Regions from separate parts of the Homo sapiens genome. Here regions 1, 2, 3, 5, 6 and 7 are each linked to region 4. The links come from fine-mapping of genetic effects on gene expression. A gene starts in region 4. Each other region holds a variant in brackets. All regions are shown on one strand. Distances are from middle to middle. Region 1 overlaps PLB1 (phospholipase B1). Region 2 has its middle 42 kb from the start of PLB1. Region 3 overlaps PLB1 (phospholipase B1). Region 4 holds the start of PLB1 (phospholipase B1). Region 5 overlaps PLB1 (phospholipase B1). Region 6 overlaps PLB1 (phospholipase B1). Region 7 has its middle 31 kb from the start of PLB1.

Region 1 (4,416 bases), 110 kb before region 4:
TGGGATGGCAGCCCAGGGGGACAGACCTCAGTCCTCACCTGGTCCACTCACAGATCTCTTCTGTTCAGAGTGGAAGTGCCAGGCAAAGGGCATGGCCTGGGTGGAAACAGAGAACCCCCAGAATGCTCCCTTATAACCGCAGCGTTGCACACGAGAGAGACCACGTGCGTGGCAGAAAACTAGTCATCTGGAGCTGGCTGTGTTCATGTTGGCCTCCCTGTCCCTTATTTCCTAAATGATCTTAGGAAGGACGCTTCACATCTCTGCACCTGTGTTCCATGCGGATGATCACACTCATTTCCAAAGGCAGATGTGACAGTTTTATCTATGGGAAGCACAGTGCCTGGCACTAGTAGGTGCTCAACACAATGGAGGCTGTTACAGGGGTCATGGGAGCCTCGCACATACGGATGTGGCTCAGGCGTTCAGGGAGCCTGCACCTGCCAGCACAGCGTCTGGAGAGCTGTGTCTTTCCCATTTTATGCACATGCTCGTGGAAGCAACTGGCAATTCTGCCTTGCATTTCTTCCTCTAAAAGAGTACCATGGGTGAGGGCAGGGGACATACCGCCAGGACAGGGAGCTGGATGTTCTGGAAGAAGGGCTGCAGCACCACAGAGAAGTCCTCCTGCGTGTCATAGCGGCCTGACCCCACCAGCTCGCGCATGCTGCTCTGGGGACACATGCACAGGGTCTTCAGCCCAGGCCCTGGGTGGGCCCAGGACCCAGTGAGGCAAGAGTAGGGGTGGTGGGCAGTCCATCTCCCTGGATGGAGGGGCCGACTCAGCCTTTCCCTTGAGAACACAAATCACCTGAGGGCAAGTCCCTTTCCAGAGAATTTGGAAACAGGTTGGGTCACCTTTTTGTTTTGATTGTAAGTAGACTACTCTCTCTGAAGGGCTAGGCAGGAAGTCCCAAAAGGGATAAAAACCTGGGAAGAACCTCCAGAGGCTCGGCACCTGCCTTTGGAGTGGGAGTGGGGGAGGGAAAGGTGGTCTCATGAGGCATCCAGGGCTACGGGCCAGGAGTTGGGGTTAAGCCCTCAACGGTAGCTGGGCCATGAGGGCTTTTCCACCTGGATCCTACTGGGATGATTCCAACCAGGGCACCTGAGACACCACAGTCACGTGAGACAGAGGAAGGCACCCAGGCTGCTCCCCGTCTCCCCACAATCCCTGACCAGCTTTTCCTTCCCTGTGTGCCTCCTCTAGGGGCTCTGGGCTGTGTGTTAGAGTGAACGTAGGGGAGAGGACACAGCATGGTGCCCTTCTTGGTCTTACCCGGTAGGCTCGGCTGAAGGCCTCCAGCCTGGCTAGCTCTTGGGAGTTCTCCCGCAGGGTCAGAACGCAGTTACACAAAACGCTGCACAAAGAGGGGGAGGCAGGAGGCCCCAGAGCTCAGGCTTCCATCAGGGGCTGGTTCTGATTGCCCAGGTTCAGGGGAGGGGTGGAGAGGCTCCCTCCCGCCCTGGTTTAGGAGCACTCAAGCCTTGAGGCTCTGGCGCACATGCTCAGGGGCAGGCTTCAGGCCTGGCAGGGGCACTGGAGATGGCCCGAGGGAGGGAGCCAGTGTGGGAATGAGCACCCTCTCATACCAACAGAGCACAAGTGTTGGACTGCAGGTGCTGGGCCTGCAACCGATTATTCAGCTGAGCAAATGAATTTGGGCAGTGAAAATTTAGTGTTTAATTAAAAAGAAAATGCATCCTCTGGTGTTGGAGCTGATATTTTGGGGCCTCTGATGCTATGCCTTAGACCTCTCCTTCTTTCACATGAGTGCCCTACTGTGTCCCCTTTGGTTTCATCATGAATTATTTCACACCCATCACATCTACTTAAGAGAGAGATTTCTAAAGCACTTGAAACAATGCCTGGTACACAGGAAGTTCTGTAAGATTTGCTGAGTAAATAGATGTGTAAGATATAAAGAATAATAAAACACACATCCATGTACTTATGGCCCAGTTTAAGAAACAAAACACTCCCAGTTTGAAGCTCCCTGTGTCCCTCCTAATTCTCTTCTTCCCCTAAAGGTAACTGAGTTGCTTGTACCTTTTCCTTGCTTTCTGTTACAGTTTGACCACATATGTCTACTTCCCTAACCACTGCCCATGTTCACAGTCTAGGCTATCCTGTCTCTCAAACACCAGCCTCTGTCCCAACTTTGATCCCTCCCCTCTGTGGCTGCCTGGTATCATAGAAGTTCCTGCCAGGCACCTTGAAGTTGGGTAACAGGGGAGTCATGGCTCCAGCCTCTGGAAGGGGACGTTCTGGCAGAAGTCCTCCTTTACAGACTTGGACACATGGATAGACCAAGTCACAAAGACCCTGAGGCATCACCACTGCATGTGGGCCAGACCAGGAGGTGAGGGCATCTCCAGTGTGGGGACAGCCAGGACCTGCCTACCTGGCCTGCTGCACTGGGCACTTGTCTGGGTTTCCCAGGAACACCTGCCGCATGATAGTGGGGT[T/A]CAGGAAGTCCACGAGGTTGACCAGGACTCTGGGCACCTAAGGGAAAAGCTGCAGATGAGAGGGGGGCTCCAGGCACTTCTTCCTGGGGCTGTCTCAGGGCCCCTAGGAATGGGTTCCTTTAGCAATCCAGCTTGGTCTTTCTGGAGTTGAGTTCTGGGGAGGAGTCTATACAGGGCTACCTCGTAGGGCCTTACAGGCCGTACATCACACAACTCCATGGGTGCCACCCAAAGGGGCTGCAGCGGCAATGGCACCTCCTGGAGTGGGACAATAAAGACTAAGAGATCATCTCTGTTTAGCCATCATGTAGCAAGCCCAGATACATTAGAATTACCTTCGGTGAGATAGGCAACCTCTTCCCTCCAGCCCAAACTGGCCTAACTCTGCTGAGTAGGCACGCAGACTCAACCCCCACAGGGGAGCATCTGGTGGTCAGAGTGCCCTGTCTCACGCAGCCAGGGCAGCTTGTCCTTGCCAGAAGATGGTGGTGGTGGAGGGGGAATGTGCTGCTGGGTGCAGGACCAGACAGGGGCTTGCTCTAGACACACCCTGTGGCTCAGAAGGCAGTGCCCAGCCTGGGGGCCACCTGGCTGCCACCACCAGAAAATGTCCCGGATAGTAGTGGGGAGACATTAGACAATTCCACCAAGGAGTGTCCCATGTAGTGGTGAGGGAACAGCCTTCCCTCCTTCAGACCTGAGGCCCTTCTGGGCTGATTCCATATAAAATAAGGTTTCCTTGGGGTTAGACCCCAACCTCTGAAAAGGGAAGGAGTCCATGCCCCTGGCTGTCTCCTTGAGAGAAAGGGGTTCTTCTCTCATTCTTTCCCCCCATCCACCTTCACCCTCACCATGCTTGAGCTGTTACCAGCTTGTGGAAGCCCCCCACCCACCTCTCTATGCAGGACGTCCAAGGCATTGCGGAGATGGTGAACAAAGTTGGCTGCAGAATACAGATTCTAGAAAGAGACAGGAAGGAGGAAAAGGAGGAACTGGTTAGGGTGGGAGGGCAGTGGGGCAGTTCTCAACTTCCCTTCTGGCTCCAGCCCTGAGGACTTGTTCCCCCTCTAGCCTCCAGCTGTGGCCAGCTCACCATGTCAAAATCTGAGATGAACAGTTGACTACTTGCTGTTGTCAAAGATGGGCCAGTGGGAAGACTGGAACCTTCAGCCAGAGCTTTGGTTCAGGAGCAGAAAGTGGAGACTCCTCCTTCCAATTGCTTGCTACAGTTTCCTCTTTCTGAATTCTCAGGAGTTATAAGAGAGAGGAGTAGAAATACCATATATCTGCCACCTGCTACCTCACCACCTAGGACATGGAGATGGTGCCAAGGACCTGGAGGGTGGTGGGGTAAGAAGTGTGTGTGTGTGTGTGTGTGTGTGTGTGTGGTATGTGTATATGTGCAGACATAGGTGTAGGTGGATAATCCTAGGATTGGTTTTAGGAACTGTTCTCAGGGAAGATCTCCAACGCCTACTGGGCAAAGTTAGGAACAACAAGTAGGCCTGGACCTGGCCCCAATTACCGAATCTGTGCAGTAGTCACATAAATCGCTGCCTCCGATCAGCACTGTGATGACCTTCCAGTCTTCATGGAAATTTACTCTCTATATGGAGGGAGGAAAATGCTTGATAATTTCCAACAAGGAAATGAAAATATCCCTGCCCTAGGAAATCCATTCAACCCTCTATAACATCCTTGCCCACTTGAAATAATGGAATCAGCATCTCTGAACTGAAGGAATTTTAGAGGTTTATTTATAGACCACAGACTCTTAGCATCAGGAGGGATTTTCAGTGTCGCTGTACCCAGCAACAAAGCTCTCTCCATTGACATACCCTCCTCCACAGGACCTCTGTCAGGGGGCTGTCCGACCACTGCTTGAATGCCTCTAATAACATGGGGCTCACTGCTTTTCAGAGCAGGCCACTCCGTTTGGAGACAACT
Region 2 (4,416 bases), 42 kb after region 4:
TTAGAAAACAAAACAAAAGGATCCCCAGATGCCCTGAGCTCTGTTTTACAAGGAGGGCCACCTGGCTCCTCAGGCCACAGCTCAGAAACCCCTGCTCTCCCTAGGAGGACTCACAGCCACATTTTCTCCTTTGCCTTTTAAGTGAGCTGTAGGGAATCCTTTGAGTCTCTTATCTGGGTCACCATTTAGGATAACTTCCACCGGAAGTGTCCTCTGCTTGGTTCCTTGACTTCAGTGTCACCTCCCCGGAGGCCTTCCCCAACTACCCCATTCCTAAGTCACTGTCCCTCCCATTATCTTGTATGATTTTCCGCCTAGCACTCATCATGTCTGAAATGAGCTCACCTGTTTACATATTTATTTTAAGTCACCCCTTTAGAGAATGCAAGCTCCACTAAGGCACTGACTGTGCCCCAGTGCCCAAAGCAGTGGCTGGCACAAAATAGGGGCTCAGCAAATATTTGTTGACTAAGTTATTTTGTTACTGAGCAGCAGCATAACCTAGGGCAAGGCAGTTAAACTTTTCTGGGCCCCAATTTCCTCATCTGTAAAATGGGCAACTACTCTTAATGATTGTGCTCCCTTTTCACGACAATGCTCTGAGTGTTGTCTCAACATGACCTTGTTTTGCCACGAAAGGACTTCTGCAGTGAAACAGGAGAGGTCCCCGATCCCCCTCAGGATGTGCCGCTTGCCTTTTCGGTCACCCCTGCTGCTCAAATCCCTCTCAGGAGGTGGAGCATGCAGATGGGAAGGTGCAGAGGCCAGGGTGAGCCATTTGGGCTCTGGCCCTACTGTAGTGTCTAAAGGTGGGTGCCTGCAACCCCAGTGTTACAAAGCTCTTTCAGCTTTGCTGTCCGCAGACAGCATGTGTTAACCAGCTCAATGGACCCTCTGCCTTTTCGCAAGGGCAGAGGGCCAGTGTGACAGCTCTCTGTATCACAAGCTCTTATCCAGCATCCCGGAAAAACTGGGTCACACATGGGCTTGAAGGATGAATGCGAGGTTTTATTGAATGGTAGAGGTAGCTTTCAGTGGGACGGATGAGGAGCCAGAAGGGGGGTATGGAGTAGGAAGGTGATCTTCCCCTGGAGTCAGGAGCCCAGCAGCCGGACTCCTCTCTGACCGTCCCCAGTCAAACTCCTCTCCATGTTCAGATGTTCCTCCTCCTCTCTCTTTCTCTACTGCATCGTTCCACTGTCCGTCTGCTGGTCTGCTGGCTTGCTCGTCTGTTTCTGAAGCCTGGGGTTCAGGGTTTATATGGGTGCAGGATAGGGGGTGTGGCAGGCCAAAAGGCAACTTTTTCCGCTCAAAAACAGGAATGCCTGTCCTCATTTAGGGCCGTGGGTCTTCAGGCTTGAGGGTGGGGCCTTTGCCAGGAGCCACCCTCTTCTACCCAGTATTTCCCTGTCTCCTGTCCGTATCACCAGGCCATCTGGATGAGTACTTATGGAGAGAGTTCCTAGCAGCTTAGGATGTTGCTTCACCTTGCAGACTTGAGTTTGCAGATGCCAGAGAGAGGTTGGAATGTGTGCTAAGTAGATTGGGGTATGTGAAAGTCTCTCCCCTAGAAGGTCAGCCGTAAGGAGGCAGGGATCTTGTGTTTTATTGATTTTTATGGCCCAAGAGTCTAGAACAGTGCCTGGCACCAAGGAGGCTCAACGAATAGTTATGAAATGAGCACAGGAGGAATGCTGGACACGTCATTGACAGTCAGAACATGAACTTCCATTCTTGGGTGAGTGTCGTGTGGTATGGAAACAGCAATAATAATGCCTTCCATTAGTGGAGCCCTCTGTAAGGTGTTTACACACACATCATCTCATTTGATCCTCATGACAACCCCATGAGATAAGTACCATTAAGTGTTATTATCCCCAATTTACAGATGAGATAACTGCGGCTCAAAGAGTTCAACCTGCCTGAGGCCACATAGCTGGTAAATGGCAGAGCCTGATCTTGAACCCAGGATTTTCTCGCCCTAGACCCAATGCTCTTATCTGCCTGTGTGTTGCTGGTCATGCAAAGCTCTGAGTGTGAGCAGCAGCTGGAAGCCTCACATGAGAGCCAAGGCCCTGAGGAGAGCCACCGTGGAGCAGACAGAAGAGCTACCTGTGACTGAGCCCAGGCCTGCTGTGCACACGGAGGCTGCCAGAGCTCTCAGCAGCAGGGGCTGGGTGAGAAGCAGGAGAGGCGGGTGAGCTGGGC[C/G]AGGCCCCTCTCAGCTCCAACAGTGGCCAAGTGCCCCTCTCGGGGAGCTCCTGAAGAGACCGCAGGGCCTCACGTAGGCACCGCCACCCTCAGGCCCAGACATGCATGGCTCCAAGCGGGCCCTTCACAGGGCACAGATGATGCCAAGGATGTGGGCAAACTGGTTTGAGGAACACAAAAACCAACTCAGAGTTTTCTCCCTTTCCTCAACAAGGCACCAGACCTGGCTTGTCACACCCCATGCCAAAGAGAAGTCTTCAAAGTGGTGTTTGCTTAGCCCCCACATCCTCCTGACTTTGCCAAAGTCCCTTATGTCTCCCTGAATCATACCTATGCACACGCACATGCACGCGCGCGCACACACATACACACACACACACACGGTGCCCAGGCCACCCCAGGCTCCTTTCCCTGGGAGCCCTCGAGCTGAGCCCTGGCCCACCTCTGTCCACAGCAATCCTTCGCACTCATCCTGCAGGCTCTTCTCTCTGCTGTCTGTTCCAAAGGCGCCTTCCCTCTTCTATACTCCAGAGCCTGCCCCAGGCCCTCCGCCCTGGTTCTGGCCATGGGGGCTTTCCACTAGATTTATCTGTACAGGTGACCGCTCCCCGTGTAGCCGCCAGCTCCCTGAGGGTGGGGCTCAGGTCCCTGTGCTGGGACCCACCTGGTCTAGGGGTCACAACCGCTGGCCACCCTGCATCAGGCCCTGTCAGGGAGCCCTGGGAGTCAGTAGTTTAGCAAACCTGTCTGGGGCCTTCCCCCTAGAAGCCACGGGGGCAGTCATGAAGAAATGGAGGGTGAAGGTGGGTGAGGCCAGGACAGGTGGCGGTCCACACACTTGCTGTGTTAGTCATCAAGGGCACCCAGCAGGGCAGAGGTCATCCCTAAAGCTGTGGCGAAGGGGATGGGTGGGGAGAAGGAGACAACGCATGCCAGGGAAAAGGCATCATGTCAAAACATCTTGCTGGAAAGGCAGTTTTCCTTCCAAACTCCCCAACAAGACCCGAAACGGTAAGTGGAAGGATGTCTTGATTAATCTCAGGCTGACGTTTTGCATTTGCTCTTGCAGCCAACACACACCGAGCCATCAAATCACCCTCCTGCTCCGTGCCAGACTCCGAACATGGAGTCCTCATTCCTGCCTCAGCAGCACTGGACAGAGCTTCTCTGTCCTCCCCCCTGGAAACGAGCCCCCAGCACAGGACCAAACAGATCATTGCTTCTACCTAGTGGAGCTAATAGCTGTTCATTGACCACATAGTCACTGGTCCCCTACTCTCCCAGCCCCTTGCTAAGCACGTCACATGCATTATCTCATTTACAAATGGGGTGGTTCCCAGAGATGGTTCTGGGGACCACAGTGGAGTGGGGAGGGGGCACTTCTGACCTGAGTGGAGTGAAAAGACAGCTGGCCCAGTCTCTTTTTGCGTCTGCTGCCCAGCATCATTGTCAACAGAGTCCACCTCATGCTTAGGAATGGCCCGGTTTGGAAGGTCAATTCTAGGTTCAGAGATTGGCCCAAGGCACCCTGTACCTGAGAGGGGCAGACACTAGAGGGCGCAAGGGAGCTGCGCTTGGTGGCCCAGGCTCAGGGATGTCAACTGGGCTGCAGCCTTGGGGCAAGGGCTATCTGCAGAGAGTGGAGGTGGGAGGCAGGTGGGGGGAGCGGGGGAGAGTGCCTAACCCTGCTCCCTCACAGAGCCCTTGCCCAGACCCAGCCCTAGCCCACATCCTCTCACCTCCATCAATCGCCCAGCAGGAGCCTGACCGGCCTGGGAACACAAGAGGGAAAAAGAGGTTCTGGGCCTGGCCTCTCCCCTCTCCACCACTTCAGCCCAGCCAGGCCCCAGCAAGCCTCTCCCCTGGGCTGGAGCCCTCAGACTCTCAGGCCGCTCTCCCGATGGGCTGGGACTGCAAATGAACCACGTTCTGGAAAAACAGCCAGGCCGTGCATCAAAGAAACTCCACGGCCCTCCAGGGGGTAGGTGTGGGGCGGGCCGGAAGCAGGAGGTGGAAGGACTGATAGAGCCCTTGGTTAGGAGTTCCGGTTCGGAACACCTTCTCCTCCTTAACCCACCCTCAGGAGCCACGAGGGCTCAGTTACAAGGCTCAGGTGGCAGCATCCTGGCCTGTGAATCAGGCTGACCAGGGTCCCTGCCCCGCCTGCTCCCACGGCCACAGGGCTTGTAACCTATGAAAAGCCCACTT
Region 3 (4,416 bases), 150 kb before region 4:
CTAATAGACACAAAACTGGATAATGTGCTATAGGGGCATAAAACCATAACCTTGAGGTTATCTTTTTTGCCGGTCAGAAATCCACAAGTCAACATAATTTCGTAGCGTTAAGCTCTAATTAAATAGTAATAAATGACAAAGTCAAACATAGGTACGGTCTAGATAACTAAATATTTCTTAGAATATTGTTAAATAACATTGACAGGACATGTGGTCACTTATTTCTAAGTTTGAGGTACATTTTCTTAATGATATAGTCGCCCCTCCTTATCCACGATTTTGCTTTCTGTGGTTTCAGTTCCTCAAGGTCAGAAAGTCAATAGTAGCCTAACCTCATTCCCCTCACTTCATCTCATCCCGTAGTCATGGTACCATCTCACACCAACATCAAAACAAGAAGGGTGAGTAGGCAAGACAGACCACATTCACATAATTTTTATTGTATATCATAATTCTTTTATTGTTGTTCATCTCACTTTAAGTTACAAATTAAACCTTATCATAGGTATGAATGTATAGGAAAAAGCATAGTATATATAGGGTTCACCACTATCCATGGTTTCAGGCATCCACTGAGCCACGGGATTCTTAGAATGTATCCCCTAATAGGCCAGCCATGGTGGCCTGTTACACCTATAATCCCAGCACTTTGGGACGCGAAGGCTGGTGGATCACCTGAACTCAGGAGTTCAAAACCAGCTTGGGCAGCATGTTGAAACCCTGTCTCTACAAAAAATAGAAAAATTAGCCAGGCGTGGTGGTGTGCGCCTGTAGTCTCAACTCCTTGGGAGGCTGAGGCAGGAGGATCGCTTGAGCCTGGGAGGTGGAGACTACAGTGAACTGAGATTGTGCCACTGCGCTCCAGCCTGGGCAACAGAGCGAGACTCTGTCTCAAAAAAGAAAAAACAAAAGAATGTATCACCCACTAATAAGCGGGGGAACCACTGTACTGTACTTTGCTTATCTTACAAGTTTGTGGTATGGATCAAATGAGAACATATTAAAATGTTTTGTAAACTGTAAGGTGCCAAGTATATTTTAATTATTGCGATTATTTTACAAAGCCCCTGAATCATATTGTATTGGAATTAATACTGATATAGAAAGGAGAGAGAGAGAGAGAGCTAATTATTGAATACCTATTTTTTGAGTATTGTTTTTATCTCATTTAATTCTTACAAAAAGACTGAAAAGATACAGGACATGCTTCATTTTCTCTGTAAGGATTATAATAGCACCTACTTCAAGGGGCTATTGTGAGAATTAATAAAAAATACAGACTTACTGCTAAAAACAGTACCGGGTATACAGTAAACACACAAATGTTGGTTCACTAAGGGCCCAGCCTGCTATTTGAACACATTTACTGAAGTTTATTTTTCTCTAATAACAATGTATTTCATTTCTGGAAGTTTTATCTGGTTCTTAGTTCTTTCACAAATCTGCCTTTATTTTTAAAAAATAACATGGTGTTCTTGCCTCATGTTTTAAATTCCTTTTGTCTTTTATCTTTCTAAACATACATAGTCTTTTTTTCAGTGCTGCTGTTATATAAAATATGTGGATCTAATCTTGCTAGTTGTTACATTTGATTCTCACAGGGATTGTTTTTCCTAATTAAATGATTTATTAGCTGCTAGAACAAGGGTATTCAATCTTTTGGCTTTTCTGGGACACATTGGAAGAATTGTCTTGGGCCACACATAAAATACACTAACACTAAACTAACTAACACTAAAGATAGGGGATGAGCTAAAAAAGAAAATCACACACACACACACACACACAAATCTCATAATGTTTTAAGAAAATTTACAAATTTGTGTTGGGTGGCATTCAAAACCATCCTGGGACGCATGCGGGCTGTGGGTTGGACAAGCTTGTGCTATAATGTCACACATACACTAGCAAAAGAAATCTTAGTCCCCATAATGTTTTAAATCATAGATTATTGCTGGGCACGGTGGATCACCCCTGTAATCCTAGCACTTTGGAAGGCCAAGGTGGGCGGATCACCTGAGGTGAGGAGTTTGAGACCAGCCTGGCCAACATGGCAAAACGCTGTATCTACTAAAAATAGAAAAAT[T/C]AGCTGGGCAAGGTGGCGCATGCCTGTAATCCCAGCTACTCAGGAGGCTGAGGCAGGAGAATCGCTTGAACCCGGGAGGCAGAGGTTGCGGTGAGCCGAGATCGTACCACTGCACTCCAGTCTGGGCTACAGAGCGAGACTCCATCTCAAAAAAAAAAAAAAAAAATCATAGATTATTAACTAGAGATAGTTGAGTTTTTCAGACCAGTTGAAAGCAGAGGAACAATGGTGCCATCAGACATTCTAGATCTTTATTTTATACCACATTTATTTGCAATTTGGCCCAATTCACTGCTGGAACCAGTGGCGGTTTTATTTTTCTGGGTTACCCCCCCTACTCTGGGCTCCAGTATTCATTTGGACAAATGTCGCATTATGTAATCAAAGTATAACTCTGGGCCAGTTACTTCTTCCCTGAGTCTTGGTTTCCTTCTCTGTAGAAAGGGAATGGTAATAGGGATGTGTGAAGTTTCATTATTGTGCCCCATGGTGCCCACCACAGCACAAGCACTTTATGTCAACTTTTATTAGCATTTTCTTTGTGCAAATCTTTTCTCACTAACATTTATATTCCCTAGTCAAGTGTAGCCTGATGTTACAACCATCACAACAATGTAATCGCTATCAACTCCTCATCCTTTCCATCATGTCCTCTAACCCATATCTGGCTCATCCATCCTCATTTTTCCTGGTCCCCATATTCACCATGCTCATCTCTCCATCTGCATGGAGTTTTCCCAGTCTCGACAACCTCATTGCTTTTGGTAACCATTCTCCATCTTTTCAGAGCTCAAAGTTCCATGTCCTTTAGGAAGACTTGGACCAGGTTTAAGTCACAGGAATCTATCTTTTCTGAATTCAGAAGCCTCCATGGGGAGTGCCATGGACTGTGGCTTCCTCAGGTATTTGGTGGCTTTGCTCATGGTGTGGCTGTGGGTGCCGTTCTAGCTAGACTGGACATTTTCCTACAGAAAAACCCCATGGCGCACAGCCAGTGTATGTATGTAATACCACCAATTTCAAGTGGGTGCTTCTCACGTATTTTTAATTTTTGGCTTCTTAGCACATACTTGCTGGGAATTTGGTGACTGGTTTGTGGCTGTGTCCGTGTCGCTCCAGACAGGATTTCTTTGTTTTGCCAAGTGTTCCTTGGTGAACCAGCTGGGACCATTTGTTGATGTTTTAGTCTGGATTACTCTGGCAGTGTGGATTCCAACACCCTCCCTCCCCAAGCCCTAATGAGGGGAGCCTGTGGTTATGAATCCATGCTGCTTTGAGGTAGGAGCTGCGGGAAGAATAGAAACTTGCAGGAAAAAAAAAGGGTGGGGTGGGGGGAGGGGCGGTGAAGCGAACTCCTTGACTTCCTATGTTACCTTTGTCGTTATACTGTCTCAAACCAGGAGTGTAAGGGTTACCTTTGTCGTTACACTGTCTTAAGCCGGGAGCATAAGCTGGGATGTGTGACTTGGTCACCACGTTTTCCAGTCTATAGGAAAAAGCAGGGGAATGCATGCTGTTCCCATTGTATAGAAACAGACACTGAAGCCCAGAAGAACACGGAACTGGGTATAGGTCCTCCGGGTTCTCTGTTGTGACAGAAAGAGATAAGGTGATGAACCTCCCTGAGAGGAAGGCGGGCACTCTCCACCCATATGTTATTACCCCATTTCCCCAAACTCATCTCTGGGTCTCACATCTTCCCCAACAGTCTGGGCCTTATCCCAACTCTTCACCGAGGAAAAAGGCCATTTTCAGTTGTGCAGCATTTTAGAGTTAGAGGTTCACACACGGTTCCTTATTTTTCAGCAGCGCCGTGAGATAAGCAAAATGTGTACTCTTACTCCAGTTTTTACAGATGCAGAGCCTGGGACACTGGGCTCAGGCTGGCGAAGGCAGCTTCAGGGCACAGCATTTCAGTGTTGCATCCGGGATTGTGACTCAGGCTCTTTATCATCCCGGACTTCAGGATCAGAGAGAGGTTTACAATGCAGATGATGTCTACCTCCCTGGATTCTTTTTTATTGAAGTGAAATTCACATGATACACAATTAATCATTTTAAATGGAACAATTTGCGGCGTTTAGTACATTCACGGTGTTGCGCAAGCATCACTTCTATTTTCAAAGATTTTCCCTTTACCCCCTCCCTGGGCTTTTGTGCAGCATAAAAGAGACCATCTGTGGAAGGCCTCCAGCACGGGGCCTCGCCCCTAGCAGGGGCTCAGTGAATGCAGCCCATATTTTCAGACTCTCTCTAGTTTTCCCTCAGAAACCTGGGCATATAGAAATAGGAATTTTTTCCTAAATTTAGCACCTTGAGAAAATCAGGTT
Region 4 (4,416 bases):
AACAGAGGTAGCTCTTCACAGTGGTAGGGAAACAACCGATTTTTCAATAAATGGTAGTGAGACAACTGGGTATCTGCATTTAAAAAAATGAGGGGCTGGATGTGGTGGCTCATACCTGTAATCCCAGTGCTTTAGAAGGCCAAGACAGGAGGATTGCTTGAGCCCAGGAGTTCGAGACTAGCCTGGGCAACATGGTGAAACTCCTTCTCTACAAAAAATACTAAAATTAGCCAGGCATGGTGGCATGTGCCTGAACACAATATTTTGATTATATAACCTGAGTGGGTGTGTGGTCCCAGCTACTTGGGAGGCTGAGGTGGGAGGATTACTTGAGCCTGGGAGGTTGAAGCTACAATAAGCCATAATTGCACCACTGCCCTCCAGCCTAGGTGACAGAGTGAGACTCTATCTCAAAAAGAAATAATAATAACAACATTGGGTTCCTCTCATATACTATTCATAAAAGTCAATCCCAGATGTAGGGTGATTGACTTAAACGAGAAAAGTAAATTTATAAAGCTTTTAGAAGGAAATATAAGATATCTTCATGACCTCGAGGTAGGAGAGGAGTTATTTAAGATACAAAGAGCACAAACCATAAAGGAAGATTTAAAATACATATACTTAAGAATAAAGGCCGGGCACGGTGGCTCACACCTGTAATCCCAGCTCTCTGGGAGGCCGAGGCAGGCAGATCACTTAAGATTAGGAGTTTGAGACCAGCCTGGCCAACATGGTGAAACCCTGTCTCTACTAAAAATACAAAAATTAGCCAGGCACGGCGGCAGGCACCTGTAATCCCAGCTACTCAGGAGGCTGAGGCAGGGGAATTGCTTGAACCTGGAGGGCAGAGGTTGCGGTAAGCTGAGACCAAGCCACTGCACTCCAGCCTGGGTGACACAGCCAGACTCTGTCTCAAAAAAAAAAAAAATAGAGAATATACAAATGGACAACGGTGGGACCACATATGATAACAGAACTCTGAGCCACAGTCTGCAATCGGCCAGGCCAGAGAACCAAACTGCAGCCTCTGCAGCAATCAGCCCAGAATGGTCAGGTTTGGTTAATGACTGCCATCTTCTCTATTTTTTGCTCTGCTTCCAACTCAGGACCCCTCAGAGAAAGCCAGATACACTCCCAACTGGATAACTTCAGATGCCGTGCCTCTAGTCAGCTGGTCCCTGATACCAACAACCTCCAACCAGAGCAGATCTGAAGATTTCCCTTTTTTCCACTGTGAAACTTTCCCACTCCCCTGCCTGCCTTTGAATCTTGGCCAAACATAAGTGATGTCTCGCTACAGCGAGCTCTGAATAAGTAGCCTCTGTTTGTCCTCATTTGGGTAGTCTACATTTATTTACACAAAATTAAGAATTTTGCTCATCAAAAGTCCCCATAGGAGGACAAGCTTCAGAGTGGAACAAGATATTTGTCATATATGTAACCTCCAAAGAGCTAGTACACAGCATATATGGAGAACTCCTAAAAAATCAATAGGAAAAAGACTTCAACAGGCACTTCACAAAAGAGAAACTCAAACAATCTCTATGAAAACACTCCTTGGCCTCATCAGTAATCAAAGAAATACAATCATCCTGTGCAGAAGGCATAGCAAGCATCGTCATTCTCCCCCACGGCTCAGAGCGGTAACTGACTTGCCCCAGAGAAGCCTCAAGCATGGGCTCAGACCCTAGGCAGGCCCAGGACTCTGTCCCATGCCTCCTCCACTCTCTCTGGGGAGTCAAGGGCAAGTGCCTTCTCACTCCAGACCCCGTCCTCTCATCTGGAGAAGATGAAAGATCTTTAAGGCCCTTTTCAGTTTAAAAGATTCTGCCTTCCTAAGCAAAGGGAGAGCCAATGATGGGAAGAAGAGGGGCAGAGAGGGATTGTGGCAGAGGCACAATCTACCCACAGTCATTAATGTTGGGGGGAATGGAAAGCCCTGGCTGGTTGCCCACTCAGTTCAATGAAAGCTCAGCACTCTGTTTAGCAGCACTAAAGAATGTAGGCAATCTTTTAGAATTTATCATCTGGAAATCTGTCTTCCTTTGTCCTTCAAAAACAAAACAAAGCTCATAAATGGTAATAGTAATGATCAAAATGTGCATAGTAGTAGTATTTCCATTTTAAGGATGAAAAAAATCAAGGTCCAGGGAGGTGGAAGAACTTGCCCAAAGCCACAAAGCACAAACAAATAGAATCCAGGGGTTTTTTTTGTACCATGGTACTGCTACCGGACTGCACTTCTCTCCTGTCCCAAGATCTGCCTCGCTCCCGGCAGCCTTTGGGACATGTAACCCTGTGTAGGCAGCCTCTGCATCCCATTCCGCAGGAGGCAAACCAGACTTCTTATTCTTGAACTGTACGCTTTGTGCTTTATCTCTTCAAAAGCACACACTCCTCTCACACACCCATTGCCTAAGCAACATGGGACACCAGCGGGGCTAAACCACTGGTTGTCCTCTGAGCAAAAGGCACGCTTACCTTGCCCCAGAAGCAGCAGCAGCTCCAGGAGGAAAATGCCTGGCCGCAGCCCCATGCCAGAATGCTCCAGGTGACTCGGGCCTCTGGAAGAGCTGCTCCAGCAGATGGATGGGCTATCACACCTCCTCCTGCTTTTATGTTCCTCTGTGTTCTGATAGAGCACCTGTCATAAATTTTACTGTGTTCACCTTTGAAAGGGGGTAGTGGCGGGCTGTAAATGATAAATATTAACACTTAGGCGGAAGAGTTCTTAAGGCAGATGAGTCAATGATGGGTAGCATGTTCTAGTCATAGACACTGACAGACCAGGGCCGCATAGCTGCCTCCATACAGCCTTCCATGATGGTGGGTGCCCAGAAATTGCCGGTGTTCGGGTCTGCTGGGAAGAACGTGGGCCTGGGAATCCCAGGTGCTGGTCGGAATTCCAAATCAACCACAGCTGTGGGAACTTGGGTGTATCCCTTAACGTGGCCTCAGCTTTCTCAGTTGTAAGCCAGGAGATCAAAAGTACCTTGTAACAAATGTAAACCATAAACCTACCTCCAAATGTGAAACGTGTTCCCACCGTGTCTCAGAAGCTCTGCTAGGTTCCCTGGTTTGCATGACACAGAGAGGTTTGTTCTGTTCCCCCCATCTCCAAACCCATGGGTGGCCAGTTGTGTTGGGTGGATGTGCACACCATAGATTTGTTGTCTGCATGTTGAATTCAGAGATACAAGCCAGAGAGGGGGAACCAAGTTTGACAAAATCAGCCGTTTCCTTTGGGTAAACTAAGTCAGGAATGCAGGCTGGGTCTAAACTGGGCAGACAAAGCTGGCATTTAAAGCCTGAGTGACAAATACCCTTGAGAGTAGAATTTAAATTTTTTACACAAATATCAAGAAACAATTGCCTTGGTTGATAGGAACAAATATATTTAAATTATCCTTGCTTTCTGGCCATGCTTGTGGGTGTGAGGCTGGGATCCTGACTTCTGAGGTCTAGCTAAGACTCTAGGGCTGGTTCCCATGACCCAACCTCAGATTCTGATCTCCTGGCTGACCCACTTTTCTCATATTTAAAAATCACAGCCAGACACAGTGGCTCACACCTGTGATCCCAGCACTTTGGAAGGCTAAAGAAGGAGGATTATTTGAACCCAGGAGTTTGAAAACCAGCCTGGGCAACTCCATCTCTACAAAAAATAAAAATAAATTAGCCAGGCATGGTGGCATGCACCTGTAGTCCCAGGTACTTGGGAGGCTGAGGCAAGAGGATTGCTTGAGCCCAAGAGTTCAAGGTTGCAGTGAGCTATGATTGCACCACTGCACTCCAGCCTGGACAAGAGCAAGATTCCATCTCAATTAAAAAAAAATTGTTTTTAATTACTGTTATAACCTCTATTGTCTTGAGTAGAAAGTGAAGACGAAGTGAGTGGCCCTTTGTTCCTGAATCTCTGGTTTTAGGATGTTGTCTCCCTTTCTCAACTGCTCAGAAAATATGTGACTTGTGGGTCACCACTGATTTAGCCAATGCCAAAGGCTTAGCCTAAGCCTCAGGACTGTAGGGGGGTATTGGGACATGCCAGAGGTGTGTGGACACTGACACACTTAGTCCAGCTGGCCATCAGCTAGTTCCAGAGCCTAGAAGAGGGCAGCACACACAGACACACAGAAAAGGAAGAAGAAAATACACCCAAGGCCAAGGTCTGTGGGGGACAAGTGAGCACAGATGCCCCTGGATATGTAGACACTTGTCAACTTCACCAAACTGCCCCCAAGTTCAATGAGAAGCCAGAGCTGCTGTCCCACTAAGGATGTCAGGAGTTTACCCAGCTCCATGCCACCAGCAGCTTTGAGGAGCATCACTGAACTTGCCTGGGCTGAATAGGCCAAGGTCCCCACTCATGTGCAGGCCAGCTGGAGGTGGGGTGGAAAGGACATGGGGCATGCG
Region 5 (4,416 bases), 140 kb before region 4:
TAAATTTGAGACAGAGTTTTACTCTTGTCACCCAGGCTGGAGTGCAATGATGCAATCTTGGCTCACTGCAACCCCTGCCTCCTGGTTTCAAGCGATTTTCCTGTCTCAGCCTCCCAAGTAGCTGGAATTATAGGCACGTGCCACCACGCTTGGCTAATTTTGTATTTTTAGTAGAGATGGGGTTTCACCATGTTGGCTAGGCTGGTATTGAACTCCTGACCTCAGGGGATCTGCCTGCCTCGGCCTCCCAAAGTGCTGGGATTACAGGTGTGAGCCACTGTACCCGGCCTCAAGTAAACTTTTAATTGAAGCTAACATACACATAGAAACGAGTACAAATCATAAGTGAGCAACAGATAAGTTTCGATAAAATGAACATACCAGCATCCAGTCAGGCAACAGACTATTATAGTCCTCAAAAGCCCCTTTCCACCTTCTTCCAGGACTATTCATCCCCCAGTGAGTCTCTACACCATCATGCTGACGTCTAACCCCATATGCCAAGCTGCTTGCTTTTGAACTTTATAGATATTATTGTATGTTGTTGAAGTTTGTTCAGCTGTCACTTCTTCAGTGAGGCCTCCCTCTTCCCAGCCATTACTCTGTGTCACATCACCCTGCTTGATTTTTGTTTAAAGCCACAGATGCGGTCAGACCTGTATGGTATTCCTTAGTATGAATGTGCCACAGTTTACTCACCCATCCTACTGTCAGTGGACATTTGGGGAGTTTCTAGTTTGGGGCTATTTATAAATAGTGCTGCTGTGAATATTTTTGTGTGTATCTTTTGGTAGACACATATATACCTTTCTTTTGGGGATATACCTAGGAGTGAAATCCTTGGATCACAGGAAATACATGTGTTCAGCATTATTAAATATACCAAAGAATTTTCCAAAGTGGCTGTAGGCACTAATTGTTTTAAAAGTCCCTGGATGGCCAAGCATTGTGGCTCACACCTATAATCCCAGCACTTTGGGAGGCCGAGGTGGGTGGATCTCCTGAGGTCAGGAGTTAAAGACCAGCCTGGCCTGGCCAACATGGCGAAACCTTGTCTCTACTAAAAATACAAAAATTAGCTGGTCATGGTGGCATGCACCTATAACCCCAGCTACTTGGGAGACTGAGGCAGGAGAATCGCTTGAATCCAGGAGACGGAGGTTGCAGTGAACTGAGATGGTGCCATTGCTCTCCAACCTGGGCAACAGAGTGAGACTCTGTCATACATACATACATACATACACACATACACATACATACACACACACACATACACACACATTCATACATACATACACATACATACACACATACACAATGTCCCTGAATGATTCTAATATGCAGCCAGAGCTGAGAGTCACGATTCTAAGAGCTCTAAGTCTGAAGACAGGGATGTCAGTTAGGAGGCTGGAGCTGTCACCCAGCACCTGGGGAGATACAAACACTGGCTGAGAGCAGGATTTCTGCAGAAGAGGGAGTAGAGGCAGCAGTAGAGGACTAGGCCTCGGGAAAGAGAAACTTCTTCAGATAAGAAGACAGAAGAAGGCAGAGGAAGAGGAAAATATCCCCTGGTGCTGCTGGAGCTTCTGGCTTTGCCTTTGCAAAAGTCTCGAGAAGGACGTGAGAGGAGGGGCAGGAGATGAAATAAGATGAAATAGTTTAAGGTGCTTTTTGCTTCCTAGTAGGGAACCCTGGGAACATCAGCCAAAGCCTGCAGACACTATGTCATAGGACTCTAATTGTGAGACATGAATTCACC[G/A]GGTATATATGTGCTTATCAGGTTGGGAGCAGTGGGGAGGGTGGTGGCATGCCCAGGTCACCAGGAAAGGACTAGAAAAACCTGGTCTGTAATCCCCCTTGTGCCATGAACAGTCTGTGTTATGTTGGGCAAACTGCTTCATGTTTCTATGCTTTAGTTACAGAATGTTCTGGCTAGATGACCTCTCAGTCTGTTCCAGCTCTAATGGTCTATTATTTATTTTTTGTTACTCTAGGGGTGAAATTCCAGCCAGAAGCCGATCTGAAAAGTTGGCATCATGCTACAGCTTTATGTCTAAGATTGGCTTTGGATGAAAACATTAGACTGTATAATTATTTCCCCAAATTATAGAGCCTAGGATAAGAAACCCCTGGATGGCTTTAGTTTTGTTTTTGTTATTTTGAAATTCGGGGTATGGCTGAGATAATAATGGCTGGGGAACCATGGACAGTCTTGTTTTGTTTCCACAATAGCTCCAGTGCGGTGTTTACGTTTTGTTTTCATATCTAAACTCCTCCCACTTATCTTTATGAAATAAAGGCCTCTTACCTGGGTGAATGGGAAGAGCTACTGAACTGCTTTAGAAGAGAAGGCCAGAGCTACATATATTTTTTTTTTCTATTTGTTTTTTGAGATAGGGTCTCACTCTATTGCCCAGGCTGGAGTGCGGTGGTGCCATCTCGGCTCATTGCAGCCTTGACCTCCCATGCTCAAGTGATCTTCTCACGTCAGCCTTCTGAGCAGCTGGGACTACAGGCATGCACCACCACACCTGGCTAATATTTTGATTATTTTTGTAGAGACAGAATCTCCCCTGTGTTGCCCAGGTTGGTGTCTAATTCCTGGGCTCAAGCGATCCACCTGCCTCGGCCTCCCAAAGTGCTGGGATTACAGGCATGAGCCACCGTGCCTGGCCAGAGCTACATTGTTAATTCACAAGAAAAGAAACCAATGGACTCTTTTTCATGTTCCAGCCGTCACTATGGCTATCCAGCCCCAGGAGATTCCTGGAGGGTCCCAGATTTAAGCAGACTTGGAGTGCCACCTGGTAGGAAGGCCATACCTTGATGAAAAAACTGGGAAGGAAGGGCCAAGGGCATCTGTGGAATCCCCTGAGGTCTCAGGGGAAAAGGAACAGGGAATAGGTACCCTTTCTTTGGGAAGATTTTTACAAAGGAATAAAGTCACATGATTCAGCCAGTGAAGGACAACCGCCTTCAAAACAAAATCCACAAAAGAAACAGGAATTATACCATATAAACTGATTTAAAAATCGTGGGGCAAACTCAAAGACATTTTGGTTACAATCCGGAGTCTTGGGCTGAAAGAGTACAATAGAAGTTCTTGGAGTGGGCAGGTACGTGATGTCCACAGGAGGAAAACCCCCTGACAATGGAAGTCGACATAAGCTGAGTCTGCCATTAACTAGGCCAAGGATAAAGCCAGTTTACATGCTGTTCTTAAAAGAAGAGGTTGCTAGAGAGGAGGAGATGGTATAGCTAAGGAGAAAGTCAATATTGTGAGTCAGCCGAGTGGGATGCTGGACATACTGGATGAGCTGACAGGGGTGGGAACGTTTGCACAGCGGTGGTTGGCAGAGACACTATGGGCCTGAAACTGTGATAAAAGGAGCTGGAATGTAGCTTGTTTAGTTGTCATAGGACAAAGGAGGGAACATACAGGTTGGGGTGGGGATTGTGTTACCCACTGAGCCTGGATTAAAAGAAACCATTGGGTTGGGAAGGCATTTCATTTGCTCCGTGCAAGAGGATCCAGTTGTTGGGGGTGACAGGTCAAGTGCTGTGCGGAAACCATTCAGTTGCTGGTGGCCAGCCACAGAAGGCAGAGTGGAAGCACCAGGCAGGTGTCCCTGAAAGACCCCCAGACTGTATGTTCATTTCATAAGGTCCCTTCTTCCCATCAGAAAGGACTGGAATAGGTATCAGCCTCGGAAAACAGGCTGTGTGGATCTCCACTTTTCGATGTTTAGAGAAATGAGTTGGGTATGAGTTGAGCCCGGAGTGCTTGGAAGGCTGATGGTGGTGACATTTGCTGAGTGCTAACTATTGTGCTAGGTGCCATGTACACATGATCTCAATGCGTTGTCTGAGACCTGTCTTGTTTTCACTGTTTTATAGATGTTGATACAGGTGGCCAGAGAGATCGTTTGCCCAAGGTCACACAGTACGAGGTAGAAGTTGGTATTTTCATCTAGCCAACCTATCTGATTACAAAGGGATCCCCTCGCAGTACCTGGGCATTGCTGAAGGAACAAAGAATAAAGTTGTGTGAGTGTGTGTTTGTATAACTTTCAAAGGGTGTTGGATAAATATAGGGTATTTTCCCTTTGGAATTAATCTATCAGGACCAATAAGGTGTGCTGCCACTTTGGGCTTTGGGGAGAAAGGAGCCATGTCTCCAGTAGTTTTGCCATTGTGAGACAGAGTGTCAATATCCTTAGATCCCCCCTTGACAAGGCCCACCAGGCCCTTGGCTGCTCACCATGTTGTTCCAGAGTGCGATGGCCATCTCGGCATGCCCGCGGTCTGAGAAGTGAAAACAGTCCTCGGAGAAGAAGGTGAGGTCAGTGTCCCCTCTCTGCAACCAACGGCAAGGAGGTTATCATCCTGGGAAAGGGCTCTGCTACCTGAGCCCCA
Region 6 (4,416 bases), 130 kb before region 4:
GAATAACATGGATGCATCGCAAAATCATTTTGCTAAATAAGTCAGATAAAAAGTATATACTCTTTGATCCCATTTATATAAAATTTTTAAAAATGCAAACTAATCTATTGTGATGGAAAGAAGGTTAGTGGTTGCCTGGGGTGTGAGGTAGGGACAGGAAGGAGCAGGAGGGAGAGATTACCAAGGGGCCTGAGAAAACTCCTGTGGGTGATGAACACATTTTTCATCTTGATTGTGGTGATGATTTCACAGGTACAATGTTAAATTGTATCCTTTTTGAGACAGGGTCTTGCTCTGTTGCCCAGGCTGGAGTGTAGTGGTGTGATCACGGCTCACTGCAGCCTCAACCCCTCTGAGCTCAAGTGATCCTCCCATCTCAGCCTTCCGAGTAGCTGGGACTACAGGTCCATGCCACCATGCCCGGCTAATTTTTTGTATTTTTGGTAGAGACAGGGTTTCACCAAGTTGCTCAGACTGGTCTCCAACTCCTGGGCAATCTGCCTACCTTGGCCTCCCAAAGTGCTGGGATTAGAGGCGTGAGCCACCGCACCCAGCCAAATTATATCCTTTTAACATGTGACGTTTATTGCATGTCATTTATACCTCAATAAAGCTGTGTTTAAAGAAATGTCTGTGAGAAGTTAGGTCAGCAAAGGGGATATAGCCAATGAAAGTGTCCATGGAAGAAGCCATAAAAGCAGCAACCAGTGCGAGCTGGCCACTGAAAATCTTTGGGTGGCCACGGTAAGCTAGGTACGTGGCCAAACACACATGGTACCATCCCTACCCTTGTTTCTCATTAAGGAGAATTTACAGATCTAGGATTGTATCCCATACATTATTGCTATTGATGAGTATACCAGAAAGCTATAAAGAAAGACTTTTCTGGTCAAAGGTGACCACAGAAGTGCCTTTAACCTTTTAACAGGTTCAAGGTGTGACTAAGAGAATCCATGGGCAATAAGCCCTCGTGGGTAGGAGGGGAAGTTACAAATGCCGCTTCTTCCCCTCTTCCTAGCCATCTTCTTCCCATCCTTCAGGCCCAGACCAAGTCCTACTTTCCCTTGAGCCTCCTCTCTGGGCTCCCTGATCCACACATCTTGCATTTCCTTTTTTACCCCAGGGACCAGTGGTTCTACTTTCAGCTCTGCTACCAACTTGCTGTTGAGCTTGTACAAGTTGCTGAATCTTGCTAGGATTGACTTTTCCCATCTTTTAAAGGAAGAGGTTGGACTGGATGATTTCAGGGGTCCCTTCTGGGTCTGCATCTGTCTTTAGACAGTGCAGTTCATACTGTGTGCTCTTCTGTTCTCTTAATTGTACTCCATGCGAAGCACTGCATTGTTGCCATACCCAGCATTGTCTTTTTCAGAAAGTTATTTCCCATTTGTTTAGCCTCCTTACCTAGAGTGCAAGCTCTTCGTGGCCAGGGAGTTCATCTTTTGATTCCTTTGTATCTTTTATTTATTTTTAATTATTATTATTTTTGGAGATGGAGATTCATTCTTGTTATCCGGGCTGGAGTGCAATGGCACGATCTTGGCTCACTGCAGCCTCCACTTCCTGGGTTCAAGTGATTCTCCTGCCTCAGCCTCCCGAGTAGCTGGGATTACAGGCGTGTACCATCACACCCAGCTAATTTTTGATTTTAGTAGAGATGGGGTTTCACCATGTTGGCCAAGCTGGTCTTGAACTCCTGACCTCAGGTGATCCACCTACCTCGGCCCTCAATGTGCTGGGATTACAGGTGTGAGTCACCATGCCTGGCCCTTTGTATCTTTTAGTAACCACCTTAGGGTTCACTCTTTTGCAGGTGTTCAATGAATTCTTATTGGTTGATGGAAGGAAAGTTAGATGAAAAAAACTTTGAAACTGAAGATCCATTATTAAATGGCAAACTTTTGGTACATTTGTACTGTACTGCTTTTTTGGTGGGTATTATGTGTGGTACTACATTCTTTTCACGGATTATTTATCTCATTTAATCCTTATGACAACCCTGAGAAGTACTATTATTATCCCTATTTATTGCTGAAGAAACAGACTCAGAGATGCTAGGCAACTTGCCCAAGGTCACACAGCTAGCAAGCCTTGGAGCTGGAATGTAGACACGAATGATCTGATCCCACACCCTATGATATTAGGTGTTCTGCTATGGTTTGTATGTTTCTCTTTAGGTGAACTCATCTGTATCTATGCTAATAAACAACAGAATAGAGATAAAGGAAAGTTATAGAGCAATTATCCAACCTCCCTTTCTTAAGTCAATGGATTACTTTCCTTTCCCCTAACATTGGACATCAGAGATACCCACAAGGAGCC[C/A]CATGTTCTCAACTACTTCCCTGGCCACTGACTTCATCTGGCAGAGGAGCTGAGCAGCGGTAAAATAGAAAAGGCAATAAGAGAAGTGAAGTGAGAAAGGAAGAAGGGGCTTGATTGTCAACAGAGTGAGAAATCACCTCCTGGAAAATGAAGCCTGTACTGTACAAGAACAACAAAATGATGATGATAATAACAATAATAACAGTAATTAGATGTTGCTATAATGACCTCATAAAGCCCAGTTTTTGCAGAAAAATAATTTCTTCCTGCTCGTGACGTTGAGGAACTGACATCGCTTCCTGTGGCTTAGAGACTCAAACAGAGCATGGGGCCCACGTTACCACTTCTGAAAGGAACATTCCCTGTAAACAGAGTGAGTCAAGCCAGTGTCGTTTCCCTGGTGATCGGAGCATAGTGATCCTTCTACAAGGCATACACCCAGCACGCTCCATGCAGAAAATCAATGAGCCTGGTCAGGCATTTCAGCTTTAATTATCTGAGTTGTTGTCAACAACAGAAATCCCAGTGAAAACAAACAGCCACCATGCTGTTTTGGGGGCCCTGACATCTAACTCCCTAGTGTCAGAATATAGCTTTTTCAGAGCCAAAGACTGAAGTGAGGTGGGGAGAGAGAAAGGGCAGCTATCCCCCGGGTCATGCACTCAGTTGTCGAGGTGCTGAGAGCCACCCTGCACGTTTGACCTGCTGGGCAGGAGGTGGAGCTGGAGCCAGCAGGGACAGCGCCCGGGTCCAGGGCAGATGTGCGCCTCCTGCTGCCCTGGAGAGGCGGTAATAGCACAGTGGTCAGAGCAAAGGCTCCTGATTCAGGCATGGTCTGATCCTGCCTCCTCTGATAACTTGCTGGATAATCTTGGTGGTTCTGGAAAGCTTATAAGCCTCAGTGCCCCTGTCCAAGGGTGTGAGGATCTCAGGAGATAATTCACATAGAAAGTCCTGCACAGCTGCTATTGCCCCTGGGACCAGGCTTCTGGACACCACCCTCCTCTCCTCCGGTTTCCCACCCTGATGTCTCAGTCTTGCCTTCCACTCGCCCTCCTGTACGGCATCTACTCACCTAGCTCTGGCCCCTTCCGCTGCCACATTTAGTCCTGCTGTCCCCTCCCAGGTGCTGGTAGAGAAGCCAAGGAGGTAAGGGTTGAACTTCTTCAGAATGTCTTTAGAGGAGGAGGAGGAGGAGAAGAGCACAGGTGAGAGCCTGCAGGACCCTCACAGTAACTGAGATGAGCATGCAGGGTGGGGACATGGGTGGGACACAGGAGTTCTGGGGCTTTTCAGGGCTGGCTGACTTCCCTTCTTGCAGATAACCTCCTCTTCCCCTCCTCCAGCAGGAAGGCCCTGGCCCCAGGGAGGACGGCCACAGTGATGGTGCCTCTCTGGGCTGCTACTTACTGGGCAGTGTGGTGTGAGTCTCCAAGTTCCCATCCCCTCCAATGCTGGGGAGGAGAAAGCATATTTGTTAAACTCACACCAACATGCTGCTCCCTGTGTCAACATATGCACAAGCCAGAACCGGAACCGGGTTCTGGGCCCCTGGGGCGTCTCTCCCATCACCCTCAGGGGTAATGCAAGCATTGAGTCTCCTGTCTCAGCGCTGGGACCTGGGGACCCAACTGCATCCCTGGAGGGGTGACAGGAAACACACTACTCACACCTCTCTGAGAGAGCATCATCAATAGAGCATGCATCAAGAACATCCTCACCTCCAAGAGAGTCCCCTCCAAGATGTGGGTAGGTCACTGGAGTTGTTTGGTCGAGCTCCCACTGCTGTCTGTAAAAAGCAAAAAGAAAGTTCAGGGCTGGGGTATAGGCTGAGGGCACTGGAAGAGCCTCCTCTGGCCCTGGGGTAGCAGCTAGGACCTGGATTTGCCTTTTCTAAAAATAGTACCGGCTTTTCTCCAGGCCATATTAAACTTGGAGTGGTCTTGATACATTCTTCTCCTCAGTTCTTTACCTACAGCCAGTAACCAAGTCCTGTTGGTTCCTCCTTTCCACTCTCCCTAGCACCCGCCCCTTTCTTTCTGTTCCCTTTGCCGTGTTCCTAACTGAGACCCTCACCTCCCTGCCACGGGCAAT
Region 7 (4,416 bases), 31 kb after region 4:
GACTTGCTGGGAGGTTTGCCCTCTATATGCCTCACCTTTCTGTATCTATGTATTTTCTTTCTTTCTTTCTTTCTTTTTTTTTTTTTGAGACAGGGTCTTGCTCTGTCACCCAGGCTGGAGTGCAGTGGCACGATCATGGCTCACTGCAGTCTTGACCTCCTGGGCTCAAGTGATCTGTCATCTTGCTTCAGCTTCCTATGCAGCTGGGACCACTACCACACTTGGTTAATTTTTTTGTACAGGCAGGGTTTCACCATGTTGCCCAGGCTGGTCTCGAACTCCTGGGCTCAAGCGATCCACTCACCTTGGCCTCTGAAAGTGCTGGGATTATAGGTGTGAGCCACCACACCTGGCCCAGCATCAAAACGTTAGGCAAATTACTCCCTGCATTCGTTTACCTCATTTGGCCAGCTAGCTGGTTGAAAGGCCCATTCTTGCTCCAAAAGTCTATAATTCTGTGGATCCCATGATACTTTTATAATTTTGTGATAAGCAACTACATTTTTATCCTGTCATTGCATGTTTTATATCTGAAAGTGCACAAAAAGATTTTTATGTTCACTACCTTGCAAACAGATAAGCAAACAGAGTCATTGAGAAGGAAAGTTGGAAGTTACTCAGGAAGCTAGAAGCTAAGGAAAGACTGAAGCAAGTAGGTAAGTACCCTGGCCGGGGTAGGGGATCGGATTCCATCCAAAGCCTTCTTTGACACAGTATTCCAGGTTCATTTGCTTTCTCCACTTACCAAAAACAAACAAACAAACAAAAACCCACTAGTGCAAGACTCAGGCCAGCTCCCTCTGGCTCTTCAGAAAATGTGGTTGTTTTCTTGAATTTGGCCCTGGCTACAGCAATGACTTGAGAACGTCTGGAGAGACCTGGGTAAAAGCTGGGTGGGTAAGTTACCAGGCTCCGCCCAGACTCAGTCTCCCAGCACTACGGGCGCAGAACTGGGCTCTGAAGGCAGATGTGAGTGTCATGGTGTCTTCAGTGAGCCTGGGCTGTCAGCTCATGAAAAATTTAAAAAAGATTTTGAATTAGTTGGCATTTTTTAATGGGATGATTTTATATTTTAAAATGCAGCTTTCTGGCATATTTTGAAAATATGAGGCTGGGTGCCGTGGGTCACGCCTGCCACCCCAGCACTTTGGCAGGCAGAGACAGGAGGATTGCTGGAGTCTAGGAGTTCCAGATCAGCCTGGGCAACAAAGCAAGGCCCTGTATCTGGCCAAAAGGAAAGAAAGAAAGAGAGAGACAGAGAGAGAGAGAGAGGAAGGGAGGGAGGGAGGGAGAGAGGGAGGGAGGGAAGGAAGGAAGGAAGGAAGGAAGGAAGGAAGGAAGGAAGGAAGGAAGGAAGGAAGGAAGGAAGGAAAAGAAAGAAAGAGAGAGAAAGAAAGAAGAAAGAAAGGAAAGAAACTACCTTGCTAAGTAGTGAGCCCTCTGTCACTGGAGAAATGCAAGCAGAGACTGGAGATCATTGAACTACACCAAAGGGATAACTGTATCAAACACTTCTTAAGTCTCTTTCACCTGTGATAGTCTATGATTCAAATAGTTTAACTTCAAGGGCTCCCAGGGGGACTGAGTGGGGAAAGATGGAATGTGAGGTGCAGTGGATGAGATAAGGAGAGAACAAAGGAATGAAGTGGTGAGCTCAGCACTGTAGCTCTCAGTGTGCAGAAAAGTCAGTCAGGTTTGAGGTCAGGTCAAGGGAAACCAACAGTACATTTACATAAATGTGCTCTAAAGTTCACATTTGCTAATCTATGGGAACAGATAGATACACCGAGATAATCAACTCAGTTTGAGGCTTCTTGGAATCTTTATGCTGCTCATCACCCTGAAAGAA[C/T]GAGACAGACGAGAGCAAAGTCATCTATGTGGTTACAGTGGTATTTTCCCAACTACAGGTTAGAAGTCATGAAATCAGTTTCGTTGGTTGTAACTAGCATTAAAAAAAATGGAAAATACCAGAGCGCATCACAAGTGATTAAATGACCAAATGTTTCATTAAAGTTTTGTTTCAATACTATGTAAGTCTATATATCATATATGTATGTGCACCAAATTACGATGTAAAATTGGTGAAAACGAGTTTGAAAGCCACTAGGTCAGAGACAGAGTGGGGGCAACCCTGCTCTGTGAGCCAAATCCTGTCTCAGATTAATTTTATCTGGCCAGGGGTGGAGCAAGATGGCAACCAAGTGCAATCCTGATGGGAGCAAGGTGACAACCAGGCCTGGGACCAAGCTCTGATGGGCTTCATTCCTGAGTCGAAGAGGCCACAGCAGAGTGCACAGGCAGATTCCAGACTTTCCTCGGGAAGCTGCTATCCGTTTTCTCAAATGAGGTCTGTGTGTCCCACCATTCGCAGACATACCTCCCCACCGTGACCACCACCATCCTGACACTTGCATATTGGCCACACTCCTCACCCTAGCCCAGGAGGAAGCCAGGAACTTCTGCATGCATCATGTCTTTGGAGTCCACCCCATGGCCAGTCCTGTTCCCTCCATCCCTCCATCTCAGCCCCTTAGTGCCTCTTCCATAAGATCGCCTGGGGTATGGCAATGAATTAGTGGCATAGTCTGTATCCCCTGTCTCCATATTCCTGAATTGCTTAACTTATTGAATAGGTTTCTTTAATATCATCTGCAGACTGAAGGAACTGACAAAAAATGATGGTGTGGATTTGACAGTTGCTATGAATGAGCTGCCTACAATTCTATCTAAGGCTGGCTCTCCATTGGAGCACAGGATTCTGTACTCTCACTTTCTTTTTTTTCCTTTAAATTAGAGATGGGGTCTCTCTGTGTTGCCCAGGCTGGTCTTGAACTCCTGAGCTCAAATGATCCTCCCACCTTGGCCTCCCAAAGTGCTGGGATCACAGGTGTGAGCCTCCACACCCGGCCCAACTCTCACTTTCCTGACACATCAATGATCCCCTCTCAATTATGCCCTCTGGCATACCAACATGATATAATTTTTCCCAATGTCGAAAATCAAAACATAACTTCTCTTGACCTCATAGCCCCCTCCAGCTTCAATCCTATTTTTCTATTCTCTTGGCAGTTAAAATTTCTTGAAAGCTTTCTCCAAACTTATGGATTCAAGTCTTCGTTTCAGTGAGTTCTGAGTCTTCCACTGGAACAAAACTGTTGTCAGTTCACCAAGGACCTTCATGTTGCTAAACCCAGTAGTGAACTTTTCATCTTTATCTTACTTAAGCCATTAACAGCATTTGATACCTTTGGTCACTCTGTCTTTTTTTGAAATACTTTCTTCATTTTGACTTCAAGACAACGCTCTTGTGGTTTTCCTCTTTCGACATTGCCCACTCTTTCTCATCTGCATTCTTACTTCTTCCTCATCATGCTGGTGTGTAAACACTGGAGTGCACTGATCTGGGTTCTGGACCTGTTTCTCTTATGCATCTACACTCACGGCCTAGGTGATTTTACCCACACACATGACTCTTCATACCTTCTATACCCTGTCAAATGTTAAATGATTTATCTCCAGAGCTCCGGGTGCATACATCCAACTGGCTAGTGCACATCTTCACTTGCATATCTTGTGACCATCTGAAATGTAATGTGTCCAAACAAAACTTCTCGCAGTTCTGTTTCCAGGGTAGCATAGTGAGCTCCTGCTGTATAAACCCCTACAGGTAACTACCATAAACTCTGAACAAAATAGGAAAAACAACGACCTGAAGGCCCTGGAGTGTGAACAAAAGCAGGCAGTTTCTGGAGAGGAGTTACTACTTGGAAAAGGAAGATGCATATGCGATGAGTTTCACAGTTTTTATGGCTTTTATCCAAAAGGCAGGCCATGGTAGAGTCACACAGGGCAGATAAAATGATGATAGAAAGTCTGCAGTCCTTCTGGCCTAAAGAATCAAAGGATAGAGTTCGAGGCAACCACAGCCATTGGAAAGTGAGAGGGAGAATCCATAAACAGAGAGACGCAGAGAAGAAGAACCACAAATTCTGTGTATAAACTGTCCAAATCTCTGGCCAATTCCTAGTCCATGCATGCATGAGGCAGGCTCAAGCAGCCCAGATAAGAATGTACAAACTAAACTGAGATTTAAACTGGTGCTCAAGAGATGGTTTACAGCTTGATCCAACCAAGTTAATAGCTTGCTTAAAACAAAACAAAATTTAAAAATCAGCATTTGGCCAGACGTAGTGGCTCAATCCTTTAATCCCAGTGCTTTGGGAGGCTGGAGCCAGAGGAGCACTTGAAGCCAGGAGTGTGAGACCAGACTAGGCAACATAGCGAGACACCTCTCTACAAAAAATAAAATTTAAATAAAAATTTAAAAAAGTAGCCAGGCATGGTGGCTACTTGGGAGGCTTGAGGTGGGAAGATCGCTTGAACCCAGAAGTTTGAGACTGCAGTGAGCTATGATTG

Evidence for each region. PIP is the estimated chance that this variant, and not a neighbour inherited with it, causes the effect.
Region 1: its variant is fine-mapped to the expression of PLB1 in whole blood (INTERVAL, PIP above 0.99).
Region 2: its variant is fine-mapped to the expression of PLB1 in whole blood (TOPMed, PIP above 0.99). The same link has a PIP of 0.9 or more in lung, monocytes and neutrophils.
Region 3: its variant is fine-mapped to the expression of PLB1 in whole blood (TOPMed, PIP 0.99).
Region 5: its variant is fine-mapped to the expression of PLB1 in whole blood (INTERVAL, PIP 0.96).
Region 6: its variant is fine-mapped to the expression of PLB1 in whole blood (TOPMed, PIP 0.92).
Region 7: its variant is fine-mapped to the expression of PLB1 in whole blood (TOPMed, PIP above 0.99).

Annotation. Positions count from the first base shown.
Region 1 is chr2:28,600,911-28,605,326 of GRCh38, reverse strand. PLB1 (phospholipase B1) reads right to left here. Exons shown (of 58, transcript NM_153021.5): 37 at 3,995-4,075; 38 at 3,363-3,428; 39 at 2,406-2,506; 40 at 1,280-1,361; 41 at 568-672. Among named protein-coding and RNA genes, the nearest start is that of PLB1, 110 kb to the right of the region's middle. The variant T/A (reference allele first, on the strand shown) is at 2,470.
Region 2 is chr2:28,452,012-28,456,427 of GRCh38, reverse strand. No RefSeq gene overlaps it. Among named protein-coding and RNA genes, the nearest start is that of PLB1, 42 kb to the left of the region's middle. RefSeq lists enhancers at 3,671-4,184, 4,185-4,416. The variant C/G (reference allele first, on the strand shown) is at 2,209.
Region 3 is chr2:28,643,805-28,648,220 of GRCh38, reverse strand. It overlaps PLB1 (phospholipase B1), which reads right to left. Exons shown (of 58, transcript NM_153021.5): 58 at 4,079-4,416. Among named protein-coding and RNA genes, the nearest start is that of PPP1CB-DT, 110 kb to the left of the region's middle. The variant T/C (reference allele first, on the strand shown) is at 2,087.
Region 4 is chr2:28,494,238-28,498,653 of GRCh38, reverse strand. It overlaps PLB1 (phospholipase B1), which reads right to left and starts at 2,594. Exons shown (of 58, transcript NM_153021.5): 1 at 2,485-2,594. The coding sequence starts at 2,539.
Region 5 is chr2:28,632,885-28,637,300 of GRCh38, reverse strand. PLB1 (phospholipase B1) reads right to left here. Exons shown (of 58, transcript NM_153021.5): 56 at 4,262-4,357. Among named protein-coding and RNA genes, the nearest start is that of PPP1CB-DT, 120 kb to the left of the region's middle. The variant G/A (reference allele first, on the strand shown) is at 1,760.
Region 6 is chr2:28,619,960-28,624,375 of GRCh38, reverse strand. It overlaps PLB1 (phospholipase B1), which reads right to left. Exons shown (of 58, transcript NM_153021.5): 47 at 4,044-4,111; 48 at 3,733-3,776; 49 at 3,398-3,497. Among named protein-coding and RNA genes, the nearest start is that of PLB1, 130 kb to the right of the region's middle. RefSeq lists an enhancer at 2,497-2,586. The variant C/A (reference allele first, on the strand shown) is at 2,323.
Region 7 is chr2:28,463,007-28,467,422 of GRCh38, reverse strand. No RefSeq gene overlaps it. Among named protein-coding and RNA genes, the nearest start is that of PLB1, 31 kb to the left of the region's middle. The variant C/T (reference allele first, on the strand shown) is at 1,850.